2 separate regions of the Homo sapiens genome follow, and region 1 is linked to region 2. The links come from fine-mapping of genetic effects on gene expression. A gene starts in region 2. The other region holds a variant in brackets. All regions are shown on one strand. Distances are between the middles of the regions. Region 1 holds the start of PLPBP (pyridoxal phosphate binding protein). Region 2 holds the start of ERLIN2 (ER lipid raft associated 2).

Region 1 (8,568 bases), 27 kb before region 2:
TTTATTCCAAGAAAAAGGGAAATATATCCATACAAAGGCTCGTACACAAATATTCATAGCAACTTATTTGCAACAGTCAAAAATCAGAAGCAACCCAACATTCATCAACAGGTGAATGGATAAACAAATTGTAATATACTTATACAATGGAATACTACTGAATGATAAAAAGAATTGAACCTTTGATACAGGTATGAACATGATGAATCACTACACTGAATGAAAGAAGTCAGACAAAAAAGAGTACATACTTCATGATTCCCTTTGGATAAAACTCTAAAAAATGTAAACTCACGTACATTAACAGTGACAAAAGCAGGTAAGTGGTTCTTGAGGAAGAGAAGTGGGACAGGTAAGAGAGGGATTACCAAGGGACAGGAGGAAACTTTTAGGGGTGATAGATATGCTCACTGTTTGTTGTGATGGTTTCACAGGTGCAAACATACATCAAAACTCGTCGAATTCTATACTTTAAATATGTGCAATGTATTGTAAGTCACTTACCTCCCTAATAAAGCTGTTACAAAATATATACAGGTTATTTAAATTTTTATACCTTAAGGGAAATAAGTTCAGTTACTCAAGATCTCCATGTCTTTCTTAATTTTATTTTACTATGATTCTTGTTTTTTTTTTTTTTTTTTTTTTTGGGATGAAGTCTTGCTCTGTTACCTAGTCTGGAGTGCAGTGGCGTGATCTTGGATCACTGCAACCTCTGCCTCCCGGGTTCATGCGATTCTCCTGCGTCAGCCTCCTGTGTAGCTGGGACTTGACAGGCATGCACCACCACGCTCAGCTATTTTTTTGCATTTTTAATAGAGTTGGGGTTTCACCATGTTGGCCAGGCTGGTCTTGAACTCCTGACCTCAGGTGATCCGCCTGCCTCGGCCTCCCATGGTGCTGGGATTATAGGTGTCAGCCACCGCGCCTGGCCTACTTTACTATAATTCTTAATTTTACTTTACTATACTTACTTTACTGTATTGTATTTTATTTACTGTAGCCTTTTATTTAAAGGAAAAAGAACAGAAATGTCTCTTTTGCTAGTTAAAAAAATTTATGGGCTACAATTCTTTATAATTTTTCTGAAAGACCACCAAATAATAATAAACATGAGGTTGGGTAGGTTTCCAAGTATATATAACCCAGAAAATGGTGAATTCATTCTGTTCTTGGCATGATGTTTTCTCTTTTTATTAAGAACTCAGACTTTCCTAAAGAAATTCCAAAAACAAATGGTGAATTGGGGCTATTCTAAAAGTTGCTCTCTCTTCCACAAAGGGTAGTAGAAGCAATACAATGACAGAACAATTTTGTTTTCATATTTAATTTTATCTTACCCATCAATTTGTTGACATTTTGTTTCTGTAGGTGGCCAATGAAGTGCCATTTGATCTCAGGACACAAAGACAGAATCTGAGGGGAAAAAGGTAACCATGTGTAATTCAGATTTTATAGAGGCCTTGCTGGCTCAAACGCCTCGTGCACTCCCTGTCACCTTTCACATCCACTCTCTGTTCCTTAAATGTAATAAACTATCACAATCTTCACCCGGCCTCCTAATGAGGTAAAAGGATAGAGAAAAATCTAAGGCTTCTGTTCTGTTTTCCTTCCTTGTTCCCATCAATTCCCTCCATCTTTCAGATATTGCCCATCTAGGATGAACTGATTTAAGCTTTCAAATCTTGAAAAGATCCAAGATTACAGCAAGCTCCTGAAACCACCATTTCCAAACAGCCACCAATGAGAAAACGACAGTCTGAACAAAGAGAAAAATCTAGCTGAGAATTACTTGGGGCTCAAGGAGGAAGCTGACATTTCTATCCCTGGCCCAATCTAAAGTCAACCACCCTAAAACTGCTGTACAACTCAACCACCAGGATGGGTCTAATTTTCAACTAAAGAGCCAAGATTTAGATACAAATTAAAGAATTCAGCTATCTACTTACTTTGGGATTTGATGCTTTTTCTAGCAGTTCCTGAACCTAAAAGGTCAAAACAGAACAAGTCAGAAGCCTGGCAATCATGATGCTTCCAAAGGGCTTCAGGAAAGGGCTCTTACGTAGTTCTCGCCAAAAGTGCGCTGCCCATGTCCATAGGCCTCGATCACCATGTCTGCAGGTTTGGTTTTGCTGACCGCCACTAGCCGGGGCTGGATGGCTGGGAGATCCTGCCAAGAGGGAAAGAGCCATATGAGTGAATGTTTGGGAACAGTACCCCAATGAATCCCATAGGATAGATCCTGTAGGATAGACAGGCATTGATCTCAACTTGGCATTAGGTAAGATCCATTTTTTCAACACTGTAGGCAGATCAATATCAAATAGTGGTGATCATGATCAAATGTTTTTTAGGCGCATGGCATCTCAATCTATGCATCAATGTTAGCGATGTCAATATTCAGCAGAAGAAATGTCTCTCTCAGGAGAGCCGGGCAAGTTAAAGCAGTATTTCCTGTAAGTGTGGTCTTTGACCAACTGCATCGGCATCACCTGGGTGAGAATTTCCTTTTTTTTTGAGACAGAGTTTCACTCTTGTTGCCCAGGCTGGAGTGCAATGGTGCCATCTCGGCTCACCGCAACCTCTGCCTCCTGGGTTCAAGTGATCAAGCAATTCTCCTGCCTCAGCCTCCTGAGTAGCTGGGATTACAGGCATGCATCACCATGCCTGACTAATTCTGTATTTTTAGTAGAGACAGGGTTTCCCCATGTTGGTCAGGCTGGCCTTGAACTCCCGACCTCAGGTGATCTGCCCACTTCGGCCTCCCAAAGTGCTGGGATTACAGGCATGAGCCACTGTGCCCAGCGGAGAATTTCCTTTTTAACAATCTCTCCAGATGACTCTAAGACATACTAATGTTGGAGGCTTAAGAATCACTTCATTAATAGAAGGCTGCACTCTAAGTAAAAGAGAGGTCACTTCTGGCTTCTGAAACCCAAACGTTAGCAGTTTGGCGACTCATTCTAGTCCTGGTGTATCATTACACCATAATAACACTGCCCCATTTACTCTAAAAGTGGCCCACTTAGGTAACTAAGTAATTGATTGTTCAATCTGTGAATTAAGAACCAGTGGCATGGCCAGGTGAGCCACACGCCTGTAATCCCTGCACTGTGGGAGGCCGAGGTGGGTGGATCACCTGAAGTTACGAGTTCGAGACCAGCCTGGCCAAAAGGTGAAACCCCATCTCTATTAAAATACTAAAACTTAGCCAGGTGTGGTGGTGGGCATCTGTAATCCGAGCTACTTGGGAAGCTAAGGCAGGAGAATTGCTTGAATCCGGGAGGTGGAGGTTGCAGTGAGCTGAGGCTGTGCCATTGCACTCCAGCCTGGGTGACAGAGTGAGACTCCGTCTCAAAATAAAACAAAAAACAACAGTCTGGCCAACATAATGAAACCCTGTCTCTACTAAAAATACACAAAAAATTAGCCAGGTGTGGTGGTGTGTGCCTGTAATCCCAGCTACTCAGGAGGCTGAGGCAGGAGAATTGCGTGAACCCGGGAGGTGGAGGTTGCGGTGAGCCAAGATCGTGCCACTGCACTCCAGCCTGGGCGACAGAACGAGACTCTGTCTCAAACAAAACAAAACAAAACAAAACAACACAACAAAAAAAAAAAAAAAAAGAAAGAAAAGAACCAGTGGCAGAACTAAGGCTGCGACACAAAAAATTCTGGATTCAGGATCAGACCTATGTGACATCCTCTCACGACCACTATACAAAGAGCGGGGGTTCTATGCGTTCTGCTGCCACCCAATCCACATAGAAACAGTAAGAGAAGAGATTCGTTTATCCTTGCACGATTTAGTCTTCTTGTATCCATCATCCCCTGAAGTTTTCACAGAATCACAGTGTTCTCAAGGACGTGACGGAGTCAGATCAATTAGAAAAATGTCTCCTCTTCCTTCCTTCCACAGCGATGCGTAACCAGCCTCGTTTGAGTCCAAGTCGTGACTACTGGGAGTATGCTGATGATTGACGCTTTCCAGAGAGTTACCCGAACAGGCAGCCCATCTGCCTGAGAGTTTCCCTGAGAGAACCTCCAAGGTGATGTTTATTAGGGGAAGCCCTAGATTTTTCTTGGAGAATCACCGAGAATCACAGAATATTAACATCAGAAGAGATCTCAGAGCTTTCAGAGCTGAGGGCCGGAATAGTTACCTGACTTGTTCAAGGTAACGTCTAAGGAATAGTCAAAGAAAGACTATAATACAGGTCTTGTCTTCAGCCAGCATAAATGCTCGATCAGAGAAACCTGTGACCTCTCTGTTAAGGTCCGTCTCATTCCACACCATTCAGCTTAAACTTGCACTGAGGTGGGCAGATTTTGATTCTTGGTCTAATCAAAGTCCAAGAGGATGTAATATATATATACACAAAAGACGAAAGCTCCCCTTAACCGGCTTGGGATTGGACTTCTCCCTCCTGCCCCATAAACAAGTGCCGCTCTGATGCCAGCGAAGTCCGGCCAGTCCACCCTCACCTCGGCCTCCGGGCGGCACTGGCATTTCTTGGGCACTTAGCAGGTGAGACGCTGCCA[C/T]ACACGCGATCTCGGGCGTCTCTGGCCTCCGCGGGGTGCTCTTGTACCCCCGTCTCCCCTTACCATCCGTGGGCACAGGCCTGGCCCCCCTCGCATCCGCCAAGGCTATCGACCCCGAAACGACGCGGTGCGCAAGTGGCCACGACACCTAGGCACTAAGTCATTTTCCCGAGGTAGCGGTACCCTCTGCTCCAACGAAGCCAATCTCCAGAAAACCTAACAGACTCAAGGTAAGGAGGCTGGGGAAACCCTTCGCTAGCCTTTCGGTGGCCCTAGGCGGCCGACCAGTCCCGCCTCTCTGGGAGACCCCTCTGCGTCACCGTGACGACCCATTCCCACGCAGGTGTCCCTCTTCTCAAGGCGGCCGCCCACCGTCCCCACGCAGCCTCCTTCCTCACCCGCGGCCGCCGCGCCACAGCCTGCTGCACGCGCTCGTTCACCGCCCGCAATGCGCACCCGACTCCCAGCTCGGCCGACATGCTGCCAGCTCTCCACATCCCCCGGGGACCGACGCCGAGCCCCAGGCCCCCGGCAGCCCGTGGCTCACACCATCTTCCGGTTCCGCCCAGCTTGCGCCGTGTGAACCAATCATTGCTCATCATTGAGTCGTCTCACCCAATCAACACCCGTGCAGCGTGGAGGCCCGCCCCCAGGCGGCGGCCATCTTGGGGAGGTCACCCGCGAACCTGGAAATGGAGCCTAGGGGCTGAGGTTTTGCGCGCCTGGTTCCAAGGGCCACTCCCCGTGTGCTCTCCTCTTTCCTGCGCCTCAGCCGCTGCCGTCCCCCCACCCCCAAGGGACTTTTGTGAGGCAGAAACGCATCCTATACTCGGGGGATCCTGTTTCCTTTCAAAACGCCTTTCCAGGCTTGCCCGTTCCCGGCTTTCTGGGCGCGGGGACCAGAATTAGAAGCCACTGGGGCGGGAGCCAGGGCTTTTCTCTGTCAGATGGTTCTTGCGAGGAACCCCTAAGCGATACGAAAGGAAACTCTTCTTTCTTCTTTTCCCTAAAGACATGGCGTGATTCAAACGTATCGTGATTTTTGTCATCTTTCAGACCACTGCTGTCCAAGAGAAATATAACGCCATCCAACTGTGTAATTTGGAAGTTTCTCATAGGCACATAAGCTTAAAAATTTTAATGATATACTTTATTTAATCCAATATATCCAAAGTAAGATTTCAACATGCAATCAATAGAAAAACTAAATGCGATATTTTAATTCTTTTGAAAATCGTATGTGTTTCTGAAACCCGGTGTAGTGTTGACTTGCATATGTCTCAATTCGGGCCATCCCTATTTCGAGAGGTTAGCGGCCACCTGCGGCCAGTGCTGTCTCATCAGGGGACACAGGCAGCATGATTATTACTATTATTATTATTGAGACAGTCTCGCTCTGTCACCCAGGCTGGAGTGCGGTGGCCCGATCTGGGCTCACTGCAACCTCCACCTCCCGGGTTCAAGCGATTCTCCTGCCTCAGCCTCCCCAGTAGCTGGGACTACAGGTGCGAGCCACCGCGCCCAGCCCACAGGCAGCTTTAGATGGTCTAGCAGGAGCTCAGCACATTCAGTTAGATTCTTTTTTTGAGATGGGGTCTCGCTATGTTGCCCAGATTATCTGGGACTCGTGGGCCCAAGCAATCCTCCCACCTCCGCCTCACAGAATAGCTGGGACTACAAACGGGCACCACAACGCCCTGAGTTTGATTCTTGAGTCCCCTTCTGTGGGCAATATGGTTATAAACTTGATGAGGAGCCAGGCCATACAAATAATAATACAGAATGCTACATAGTCAGGTGGTGAAATAGTAGGTGCTACGGGCAAGGAGAAGGAGATCAATTTTGTTAAGGAAAGCACTCTTGGCTGCAATTTCTGTTGAAAGTTTCTCAAACATTAATTCAACTTAATGAAGTGGGATGCTATTATATTAGAGAAATGGCTAATGTTTGTTCTTCAGGTGGTCTTGTCTTGAGGTGATGGGGTTTATTAGAGCTTTCCGGAAAGAAGGGGCAATATTCTTACTCTCTCCTCTCACAGTTTTTCCCCAGACTCCCAGGAACAGAGATGGAATTTCACATCTTCTGCTCTGGGAAAGTCACATTAGGCAGAACCTCAGATCCTTAAAATAAGGGACTTCTTTTTGGGAAGTCTCTGGTCATTTACCCTGGTACACATTAACTGGGTTATCTGCAAACTAGGACTGCCAACATTAGGAGTAATTGTGTTCAGATAAAATGTCTCTAGACTTGATACATCTGTACTCCAACCAAAATGATAAAAAAATTTAAAATGACCAGAATGGCCCTTTGTGGTGTGAGCATAATAGATGCTTGCTGTAGAGACACAGGTGGGAAGGAGCGAGCCAGCAGTGAGTGATGGGGAGGACAGAGGGGATCATGGTGATGGGATGTGTAGAGGAAGGATTGGGTGAGATGAAACACTTCAAATAATGTGCTATTTGGAAAACATTTTAAAACCATAAATACCTCACAGATCTAGGGAATGTATAATCCAGGTGTTACGTCACTATGACAACAAGTAGTTGTAGCTTCATTTACTAGATTGGGCCTCTATTCTTTTTTGTGTTTTTTGAGACGAAGTCTTGCTCTGTCACTCAAGCTGGAGTGCAGTGACGCGATCTCGGCTCACTGCAACCTCTGCCTCCTGGGTGCAAGTGATTCTCCTGCCTGAGCCTCCCGAGTAGCTGGGACTACAGGCGTGCATCACCACGCCCGCCTAATTTTTGTATTTTTAGTACAGATGGGGTTTCACTATGTTAGCCAGGTTGGTCTCGAACTCCTGACCTTGTGATCCACCCGCCTCGGCCTCCCAAAGTGCTGGGATTACAGTCGTGGGCCACCGTGCCCAGCCAGGGACCTCTATTCTTTGAACTACAAGGCAAGGTCATCCTCCCACCCCCTTATCCATTCAGTGAACATTTACTGAGGCGTTACTCTGTAAAGAACCCTGAGAGAGACCAGGCTGAGTAAGACAGGCTTTACTGCCGATTTACTTCCAATATGCTCGCTTTTCATCTCTGACATTCTGTGGTCTTATGAAAATGGAAATGGAGACAAAAAGATCATGGTGCCCCCAGTCCCATGGTCATTTCACATTCCAATTTCTTCTTAGTTGTACTTTTGAATTAATTTTATTTCACTTTGTCCCTTTTTTTCCTTATTTGCTTTTTTAATTTCTTCTCTTCCTCTTCCTGGGACATCAACCATCCAATTTAACCTTTCATCCTCCCCTACTACCTAATCCTTGAAAAATACAAGTCCAAAATCATTTCATCACCAGTAATTGTCTTTAAATTGCTCCAATAATTTGCAAGGACCAAGGGGAAAAGAGAAAGATTAAAAAGCCAAATGCCCAGAGAAACAGATTTTATAAATAATCTAAAATCTAGTATACTTATTCACCATCAATGCCATCAAGCTTTTAAAACACCCTCATAGTCTGGAATAAATCCAAATTATGAGAAAAACATATATGGATTTAAAAATTGTTTCCTTCTGAGCCTACTGTGAGTCTTTTAGGGGGATAAAAAAGTAAAAAGTAAAATAGAAAATTACTGTTGCCTGGTTACTTAGCTCTAAAGAGAAACGGAGAAATAATGCCCATGTCCCATCCCAGTTTAAATGAATTCAGGTAGAGTAGCCCATGACAGCAAGCCCTTGGCACACATGCCATCACATCTGGCCTTTGAAATGTCTATAGAGATAGTAGAACCCTAGACCTAGGGAAGACTTAGGGAGGTTTCATACAGAAAGAATGACATTTAAACCATCCCAAACAGCACAGAGTCTTCACAATTTCTGAAGACCATCAGAGAAGAATATTTATTTTCTATTTGCAAGTAACTACTCCTCCCCATTTGAAAATTTAGCAAGCCTGATCTTAAGTAAATTCTTTACAAATCCTCCTTTATTCAAGTGAATTTCCTCTTTTTAGCTACCAGTATGTAACTTTTATAATCGTGAAGTCATTAAATGTCCCTTCTGCCTTTTCTGGCATCAACCTATGAG
Region 2 (8,568 bases):
GGTATCCCAAGACATTCTCCTGGGTCAGTGTAAAGTGTAAAATCTTGTTATTCTTCTTAGCTGGACATACTTCAGAGATGGCAAGTCCAACTTAGCCAGGCTTTAGATCTGCCACAACTAACCTCACTCCTATTTTAGATGTCACCTCCCCTCACTTAGTTTAACTCCTCCCCACTCACTGCAAAAATTATGTTCGTATTTCTGAATTCAAATAAGAATCAGCAAAATTACTATGTTTTCTTTCCATTTAACATGGTAGCCTGTGATTTAAAACATACACACATAAACCCTGACTTTTCTTTCCATATACTCAGAACAGGTTCTTCTCTGGCTTTATCTTGAAGGAATAATCCCCAGCCTCATTTTATATATATATAGTGTATGTGTGTATATATATATATATTATATATATATAATATGTATATATTATCCTTATATCATTCTCTAGAATGGCATTTTACTCATCCAATGGCTAAATAATTTCAAATCATGCACTAGTTAACAGCCCAAGTTTGCAGTCGTCCAGCCATACCACAGAGGCCAAGCATACCTGCACAGACTTATATGATGTGATGAAAGGGAGCATGAGATGGAAACCAGGGCCGCTGGTCGAAGTCAGCAGGGCACCGCCTCTGCAGAGGAGGGGGAAGAGAGAGGCAGCTTCAGTTTGGCAAGAAGGCTCTGTTAGATCAATATCATGAGGGTCAACTTTCCCTTCAGCCCTATAAACATATAATAGAGAGTGACATGTGCTGCAGCCATGGCTACAGATCCCTTTCTTCCTCTCAGCTAGATCCTAATATTCTAGGAAGCCTGATGGTAAAACATAAAACTATTGTTCATGCTTTTGCAAGGAGAAAAATAGGCACATAGGCTAAATGGAATAAAGACAGCAGAACCCACTAGTGCAGTCCCAGCGCTTTGCGGGGCTGAGGTGAGAGGATTGCATGAACTCAGGAGTTTGAGACCAACCTGTCTCAAATAGTGAGACCCTGTCTCTACAAAAAAAGAAAAGGAAAAAAATTAGCTGAGTGTGGTGGTTGTATGCCTATAGTCCCAGCTACTTGGGAGGCTGAGATGTAAGAATTGCTTGAGCCTGGGAGGTTGAGGATGTAGTGAGACATAATTGTGCCACTGCACTCCAGCTTGGGCAACAAAGTGAGACTCTGTCTAAAAAAAAAAAAGAAAAAGACAGCAGAATCCATGGGTATACTTAGATAAGAGAAAGTCTGGCCAGGCGCGGTGGCTCACGCCTGTGATCTTTGGGAGGCTGAGGTGAGTGGATTATTAGGTCAGGAGTTCAAGACCAGCCTGGCCAACATGGTGAAACCTCGTCTCTACTAAAAATACAAAAATTAGCCAGGCGTGGTGGCAGGCACCTGTAATCCCAGCTACTTAGGAGGCTGAGGCAGAGAATTGCTTGAACCTGGGAGGCGGAGGTTGCAGTGAACCAAGATCTCACCACTGCACTCCAGCCTGGGCAACACAGCGAGACTGTCTCAAAAAAAAAAAAGATAAGAAGTCTGTTTTACTTTGTCATATCTGTTGGGCTTGTGGCAATCCATTAGGGCAGTTAAGTCCAGTAATATGGTTATCAACTACCTGCACTAATGCTGGAGTCCAATGACATGACCAACCAAAAGAATAATTTGAAGTACTTTATAAATAATTGAAATATATGTTTTGGCAATAGAGTTACCTTTCTAATCAAGTTATATGTAAATGATGAAGTTAAAAGCCTTTTTGGGGAACATGTAAGCAGATGATGGGGAGAAAGAATTAAAGGAGAGAGGAATTCCAATCAGAGTTTTAGAACTTGCTGTTAGCAATCCAGAAACAAGCATCACAACAGCACATATAAGAAGAGTTCATAAAGACATAAAGCAAAACACTTGGTCATGGAGGTTACTAAAAAGAAAGCAACCCAAGACTTATAAGTGCTTCTTTGCTTTATATTAGGCAAAGAATTAAAAAAAAAACCAATAAAATAAACAGTGACATAATGGGTTCCTTTATTGTAGGAACCACTATCCTAAGGCTTGCTTTGATTGACGTAAGTCAACCTGCAGGCTCTTTCATTTTTCTTGAAATGTTAATATTATTTTATTTTTAGAGACAGGGTCTTGCTCTGTCACCCAGGCTGGAGTGCAGTGGTGTGATCATAGCTCACTGCAGCCTCAAACTTCTGGGCTCAAGTGATCCTCCCACCTCAGCCCCCCAAATAACTGGGATTACAGGCACGTGCTGCCATGCTCGGCTAATTTTTTACTTTTTGTAGAGATGGGCTCTCACTATGTTGCTCAGGCTGGTCTCAATCTCCTGGGCTCAGGTGATCCTCCCATCTAAGCCTCCTGAGTAGCTAGGACTACGTGTGTGTGACACCACAGCCGGCCAATTAAAATTTTATTTTTTATTTTATTTTTTTAGAGATAGGGTCTCACTATGTGACCCAGGCTGGCTGAAATGTTAATTTTAAAAGAGCATCCCAAATTAGCAGAGTAGGCTACCTTCTCAAGTTGCCATCAAGAACTGGTACTCAGCTGGCTTTTGTAAAGGTAACCTAGCAGTGTAGAGCTAAGACTGCCAGAGGGATGTAGAGCTAAGACTGCCAGAGGGATGTAGAGCTAAGACTGCCAGAGGAATGTAGGAGAAAACAGTATTTTAGGGATGATCAATGAGGAGCACCAGTTTCCTTTAGATTTTGTCTCTAAATCTATATACACATTTATTAATCACCACCCATGGCATCATCTTGGACTACTAAGTGAAGTTCTAAATTTACATATATATGTGTGTGTGTGTATTCTCTTTCCCGTGGTTACTGACATAAAAAGCTCCATCTGAAAAGGCTCCCCTATTCAAGGAAATATAAATAGAGATGTTCAGCAGAATCTGCTAGGAAAGCAATGACCAGGAAAGGGAGCTATTTAACAGGAAGTTGCCGGCTTCTCCCTGTCTCTGCCTTACCTGTAATATACCCCAATATGTCCCTCTTCTATCTTGTGCACAGCTGAGAAGAGAGATGCACAAAAGAAACTGGAAGCCACAGCCACAACTGCTCCCAACTGAGCCATCAGTGAGCCTTTATCCTAGGGAAAAGACACGGGAAAATGTGTGTGGTCCAACGTGCAGGAGAAAAGGCCACAACAGCGAGAGGACCTCACCAAGCTGAGCTCCCTGCGAGTGACTCATATCCAGCCTGGTGTCGTGTGAACACAAGGCTAGATCTACAACTCGCTTCCTCCTCGTTCTCAGTCAACGTTCCCCTTTCTTTAACTGTAAAATTAGAGCCCCCACCGCACTGAGGAAGCACTGGCTCCGGATACAGCCGTTGCTCAAGGGAGAACCCGTGCCAGCTGGGTAGGGTTCAGAACACAGCCTTGTCTTCCTGTGAACACGAATGTGCTGTCACTGAACCTTTCCTACCAGTAGTAGGGAAGAGAGGCAGCTGCAGTACTTTGGCCCAAATTACAGAGGATGCCAAATGACAGGCAGTTGTGGCTATGTAATTCTGGTCAGAGTCTCCCACTCCTAATTGCCTGCAGTTTCAAAGGAAACCATTATTTACTCCTTTCAGATGCTGGAGTGGCAGAGCCAGCAGGCGAGCAGAGTTTCAAGGTAGGATTCGTTGGCCTCGCATCCACCTTCCCAGTTATTCCTTTGGCCCTAAACAGGACAGGGCTCTGAACAAGCCTGAAGCCACACTCCCCCCCATATACTTTGGCACTTTGCACCTGACAGATCCCCAAGCCCGTGGTCAGAGAGAAAGGCAATGTCCCAAACTGCGAGCCTCTAGGCTCCTAGGTCCAACCGCGTTCAGGCACCAGGACGCGGAGGAGTGGGATCCTGAACGCTGAATGATCTGGAACTATGGTGACTGACTGCAAAGTTCAGCTGTGCGTGCGTGGGCCCGTGAGCGCAGGGCGTGGATTCTGCCTCCCAGGTCTAACGTAACCGGGGCGCGGACATCTGCGAGGCGCTTATTTTACCGTGGCGGCCTCCGGCTACCGATCTGCAGTTGCGTCCTTTCCTGCCAGTGCCCTTCCCTCCCCGAGGTCACTCGCGCCCCTTCCCCGCCCCGTTCCGAGAGAGGGTCAAGCGCCCTGGTCTGGGGCTGCGGCTCCAATAGCCTCCGCTCGGTCCCCCTGCGGCTCGCAAGGAGAGGACGCGACAGAAAAGGGTTTCTGTCTCTCTCCAGGAGCGGGCCGGCTGAGGGAGAGAAGCTGCTGGGACTGAGGTTCCCGAAAGTGACGGGTCAGCCCCGACCCTGAGCGGCAGCTAGGCCCAGCGCGCGCACGAAGGGGCGGGGGCCGCGTACCAGGCTGTCCCTGCAGGCGCTCCGTACTCGTCCGAGCCCACGAGCAAGAAAACCGTCACACCCCTCAGCACGCGACTTCCTTCCGGGCCGTCGCTTCGATGACGCCATCAATTCACGCGAGAAGACCACACCCCCGCCCCGCGCTCGCTCTGCGCCCCGCCCCTCGCGCTCCCAGCGGTCAATGGCCGTAGCTGGCCGCCAGGGATCGCCCGCGACTTGGTCGGTGCGGTCCTGGACCTCGGTCTTGGGTATCCGTCCTGGGGCTGGGGATGAGGGCGGTGTTGGTGGGAGCTCCCCGAGAGCGAGCGGCAGGACGCGCATGCCCCGGAGTACTGAGACCCAGGGCGAACCTTTCCAAGGCGTTGACTTTGGGGATTGCTCCGGATTTCCTTCTGCATTAGGCCGAACCTGGTTCGTTTTGGTTTTTTTAGAGACAAGGTCTCGCTCTTTTGCCCAGGCTGGAGTGCAGTGGCACGATCATAGCTCACTACAGCCTCGAACTCCTGGGCTTAAGCGATCCTCCCACCTCACCCTGCTGAGTAGCTGGGACCACAGGCGCACGCCACGACACTTGACAATTTTATTTTTAGTAAAGACAGGGTCTTGGTATTTCTGGTCTCAAACTCTGGCTTCAAGCAATCCTCCTGCCTCGGCCTCCCAAACTGCTGGGATTACAGGCATGAGCCACCATGCGCGGCCTTTTTTTTTTTCTCTCCTTGATAAGGTACTGGCGAGTTGCAACTGTTTGCTTTCCTATAGCACAGCTGAAATGAAACAGTCTTTTCAATGTACAGATTAGCATCATTACCTCACCAATCAAAAATCCCTACCTTGAGTTGTTCTTTATATTTTTCTGGGAGCTTTGGCCCTTGGGATCCTGCAACGCCACAAAGTATATTAACAAGGAATTATTATTCTAATTTTAATGAACGGAATCTAAGAAGTTCAGCGAGGTTCAAGGGTAAAAGCCAAGGAAAGTTTCCTTTGTGTTTCCTTAATATCTTGAGTTCACTGCTTTTTAAACTCCTGCCACAGTGCACAGGGGCTAGTGCACTTCGTCTTTCTAGATAAACTGTACGTTCCCGGGAGAGCAGAGACTGACTTTCCTTCCGCACCCCCGGGGCTTAGGTGCCCAGTAAAAACAGACTGAAGGCAACGTGGGACCAGGCCCGGAATCCAGAGTTTGTGTCTCCTAGTCTAAGGGCCTCACGTTGTCCTCCACCTGCCCTATTCACCAGCATCACATTGGGGCATTTCTAATTCAGCCACTGAGGTTATTAATATTTTGTTTGCAGGAGAGAAAGAGTCCACTTAATTATAGCCTTCAGTAAAAGAAAAACTTTTACACCGGGAAGATGGCAAGCTGGTGGTGTTAGACAGATTTAAGACTCAGGAAAAGGGAAGTGTGGTTTTTTCCAGGCATGCCTGCTTGGGATTGGCCCGTTTACCTTTCCTGCGTTTGCTCTGGGTGTTGGGATGTTTCAGCATTACATGGTGAAACCCATACGAGGGTTACATGGTGCTGTCTGGGAGCTCTGTGCCCATCTCCATAAATGAAGGCCTTTCATCTCCCTACTCTGTCCCTGCATCCCCCACCCCAAACAGACACAGCTGGCCAATCTCTCGATCAATCCTATCAGAACTTGAGTTTTTTCTCTCCCTGTTCAGTGATATAACCTCAGCTGGGCATGCTTATTTAATAGTTTATTTAATAATTGAGTAAGAAAAATGGAAATATTAGGGTTCATCAACCCATGAAATGGGGGCTAGCCTGCAGCATCAAGTATTTAAATTACTTGTAATTTAAGAATTTCCTTTAACCAACCTCTGGCAACCCGTCTCCCCTCCCCTTCCCACAAATATGTATATTATTATGTGTCAATTAAAAATAATAAAAACACAAAAATTTCCTCACATTAAACTTTGGAGTGAATTGTGGCTAGAAGTTTTGGGATTTTGTTCTTAGGAGTCATTTTACCAGACCTGAGTTATTTAGTTGTGGACGTGCCTAAAGGCAGGGGGATGGACTTCGTGATGTGCTAGTACATGATGATCTAGTACTTCTGAAAATCTCTTTCTTAAGAGACCTGTGATTTTTATGTTACCCAGCAGATACATTTGTGATGATTTGTTTAACAAAAATGTTTACAATTTCTTTTTCTCCTTCCTTCCTTCCTTCCTTCCTTCCTTCCTTCCTTCCTTCCTTCCTTCCTTCCTGTCTCGCTCTGTCACCCAGGCTGGACTGCAGTGGCGCGATCTCAGCTCTGCAACCTTTGCCTCCCTTCAAGCGATTCTCCTGCCTCAGCCTCCCGAGTAGCTGGGGCTACAGACGCATGCCACCACGACTGGCTAATTTTTGTATTTTTAGTAGAGATGGGGTTTCACCACGTTGGTCAGGCTGGTATTGAACTCCTGACCTCAAGTGATCCACGTGCCTTGGGCTCCCAAAGTGCTGGGATTACAGGCGTGAGCCACTGCGCCCGGCTAAAATTTTATTTTTTAAAAAACCTCACAGTATAGAGTAGTGATTTAGCTCAGATACTTCACAGTCAGGCTGCCTTGTTTAAATCCTGGAGCCTGCCTCTTATTCTGTAACATTGGAAAAATGATCTATCCCTGCCTCAGTTTCTTCATCTATAAAATTAAAGTAATAATGGTATGAAACTTATAGGACTGTTGTGAAAAGCATATACAACATTTGGTACATTTTAAGTGTTCACCAAGTGTTAGCTGTTGCTGTTTTAAATAGCAAATTCCCTTAATGTATTCTTGCATGTTTGTGGGTTATCATTGCAGATTATTAATGTGACACAGGGCGAGAGAATGATAAACTTTAAGTTGTATGGTATTAAATAATAACCAAATGAAGGCTTATCAGAAGAAGAGATAAAGGCTTCTGAAATTATACCTCAATGGATATTTACAATACAGATTTCATAAAGCTTTATTGAATACTGTCTATGTATCAGCCCCAGTACCTTACATTTTCTCATTTTATGTAAACTTTAGGTCAGCCCTTTGAGTTCAACTCCATTTTAGAGGAGAAAGTGGAAGCTTAGAGAAATTAAGAGATTGTCTAAGATCACGAAGATGATAAATTGCAAAGGCAGAGTTCAAATGATCCCGTCTATTTCTTTTTTATAGTGAATGAGTTAGAAAATGATTCAATTTCAGACACAAACACACACACACACCCCACATTTATTTCACATGTAACCTTTCAGTAATGTAGATCAGTGGTCAGAAACTGAAATTTTTCTAATTAAATTGGGCCAGTTCATTTTGCAGTTGTAGATTGAAGCAGGTTAAAAAATACTCTCACCTAGCAATCCATAGTTTTCTATTTCTATTGCTGTTTGTTGGGTCCTCTTACCAAGAAAATTGTTAGTGAGAGTGCCATGCCAAAGAAGAGACCCCTTCTTTCACAATTAGGAATTTTTAAGTCAATTTCACAATTAGACTTTTTAAGCCAATAAGCAGGTCCAAAGGATTCAGGCAACTCTTAAAATCTTCTGCTTCAGTTCAGTTCAGTATCACAAGAGTGGAAGTTGCTGGAAAAAGTTTCCGTTTGATTTAAAGTTTATCTTTTTCACTTTAGGCCCTAAAACAGGGAATAGAAATAATCTTTTAGAACATTTGATTCCAGTAAGATTTTGGTGAGCTTATGGGAAGAGGAGTGAACTGTATCCTTAGTTATTAAGGGGGCTCAGAAATTTTTCCTCTTTTCTTTTTTTTTCAGTTGCAAAAACCGGGATTGGTGCCTTCCAAGAACAAAAGCATATTTGCTTGGGGCTAATGATGTTTCTTCAAGGCATTGGGTAAAGAGATCAAAGAGCCATCAGGAAAAAAATTGAGTTGAAAGTCAGCTAGAAGGCACCTAAAGGTCCTTTTGTGATTACACATTTTTACAGCTTTATTGAGATATAATTGACATGTAATAAACTGTTCATAAAGTCTACAATTTACATTTTGACTTGCAAATACCTGTGAAGCCATTACCACAATCAGTATAATGAACACATGCATCATGGCCCCAAATTTCCCCATGCCTCTTTGTAATCTCTCCCTCTTACCCCTCTTTGGTACACCCCCTTTTCGATTCTCAAAAGACCACTGATCTTCTTTTGCCACTCTAGATTAGTGTGCATTTTGTAGAATTTTATATGCATGGAATTGTATAGTATGTACCCTTTTTTGTGGGGGAGGGTCTGGCTTTTTTGAAAACCCAGAATAATTATTTTGAGATTCAT

The links. PIP is the estimated chance that this variant, and not a neighbour inherited with it, causes the effect.
Region 1: its variant is fine-mapped to the expression of ERLIN2 in whole blood (TOPMed, PIP above 0.99).

Annotation. Positions count from the first base shown.
Region 1 is chr8:37,759,128-37,767,695 of GRCh38, reverse strand. PLPBP (pyridoxal phosphate binding protein) reads right to left here and starts at 5,051. Exons shown (of 8, transcript NM_007198.4): 1 at 4,938-5,051; 2 at 2,063-2,170; 3 at 1,950-1,985; 4 at 1,341-1,416. The coding sequence starts at 5,036. LOC124901934 (a long non-coding RNA gene) reads left to right here and starts at 4,432. Exons shown (of 2, transcript XR_007060889.1): 1 at 4,432-4,769; 2 at 4,883-8,568. RefSeq lists enhancers at 4,623-4,682, 4,991-5,285, 4,863-5,322, 5,423-5,502 and a silencer at 5,043-5,363. The variant C/T (reference allele first, on the strand shown) is at 4,540.
Region 2 is chr8:37,732,429-37,740,996 of GRCh38, reverse strand. It overlaps ERLIN2 (ER lipid raft associated 2), which reads right to left and starts at 4,363. Exons shown (of 12, transcript NM_007175.8): 1 at 4,319-4,363; 2 at 2,968-3,089; 3 at 551-632. The coding sequence starts at 3,074. LOC101929622 (a long non-coding RNA gene) reads right to left here. Exons shown (of 3, transcript NR_125820.1): 3 at 7,504-7,919. LOC102723701 (a long non-coding RNA gene) reads left to right here and starts at 3,571. Exons shown (of 2, transcript NR_125821.1): 1 at 3,571-3,618; 2 at 4,199-6,236. RefSeq lists enhancers at 3,009-3,801, 4,281-4,490.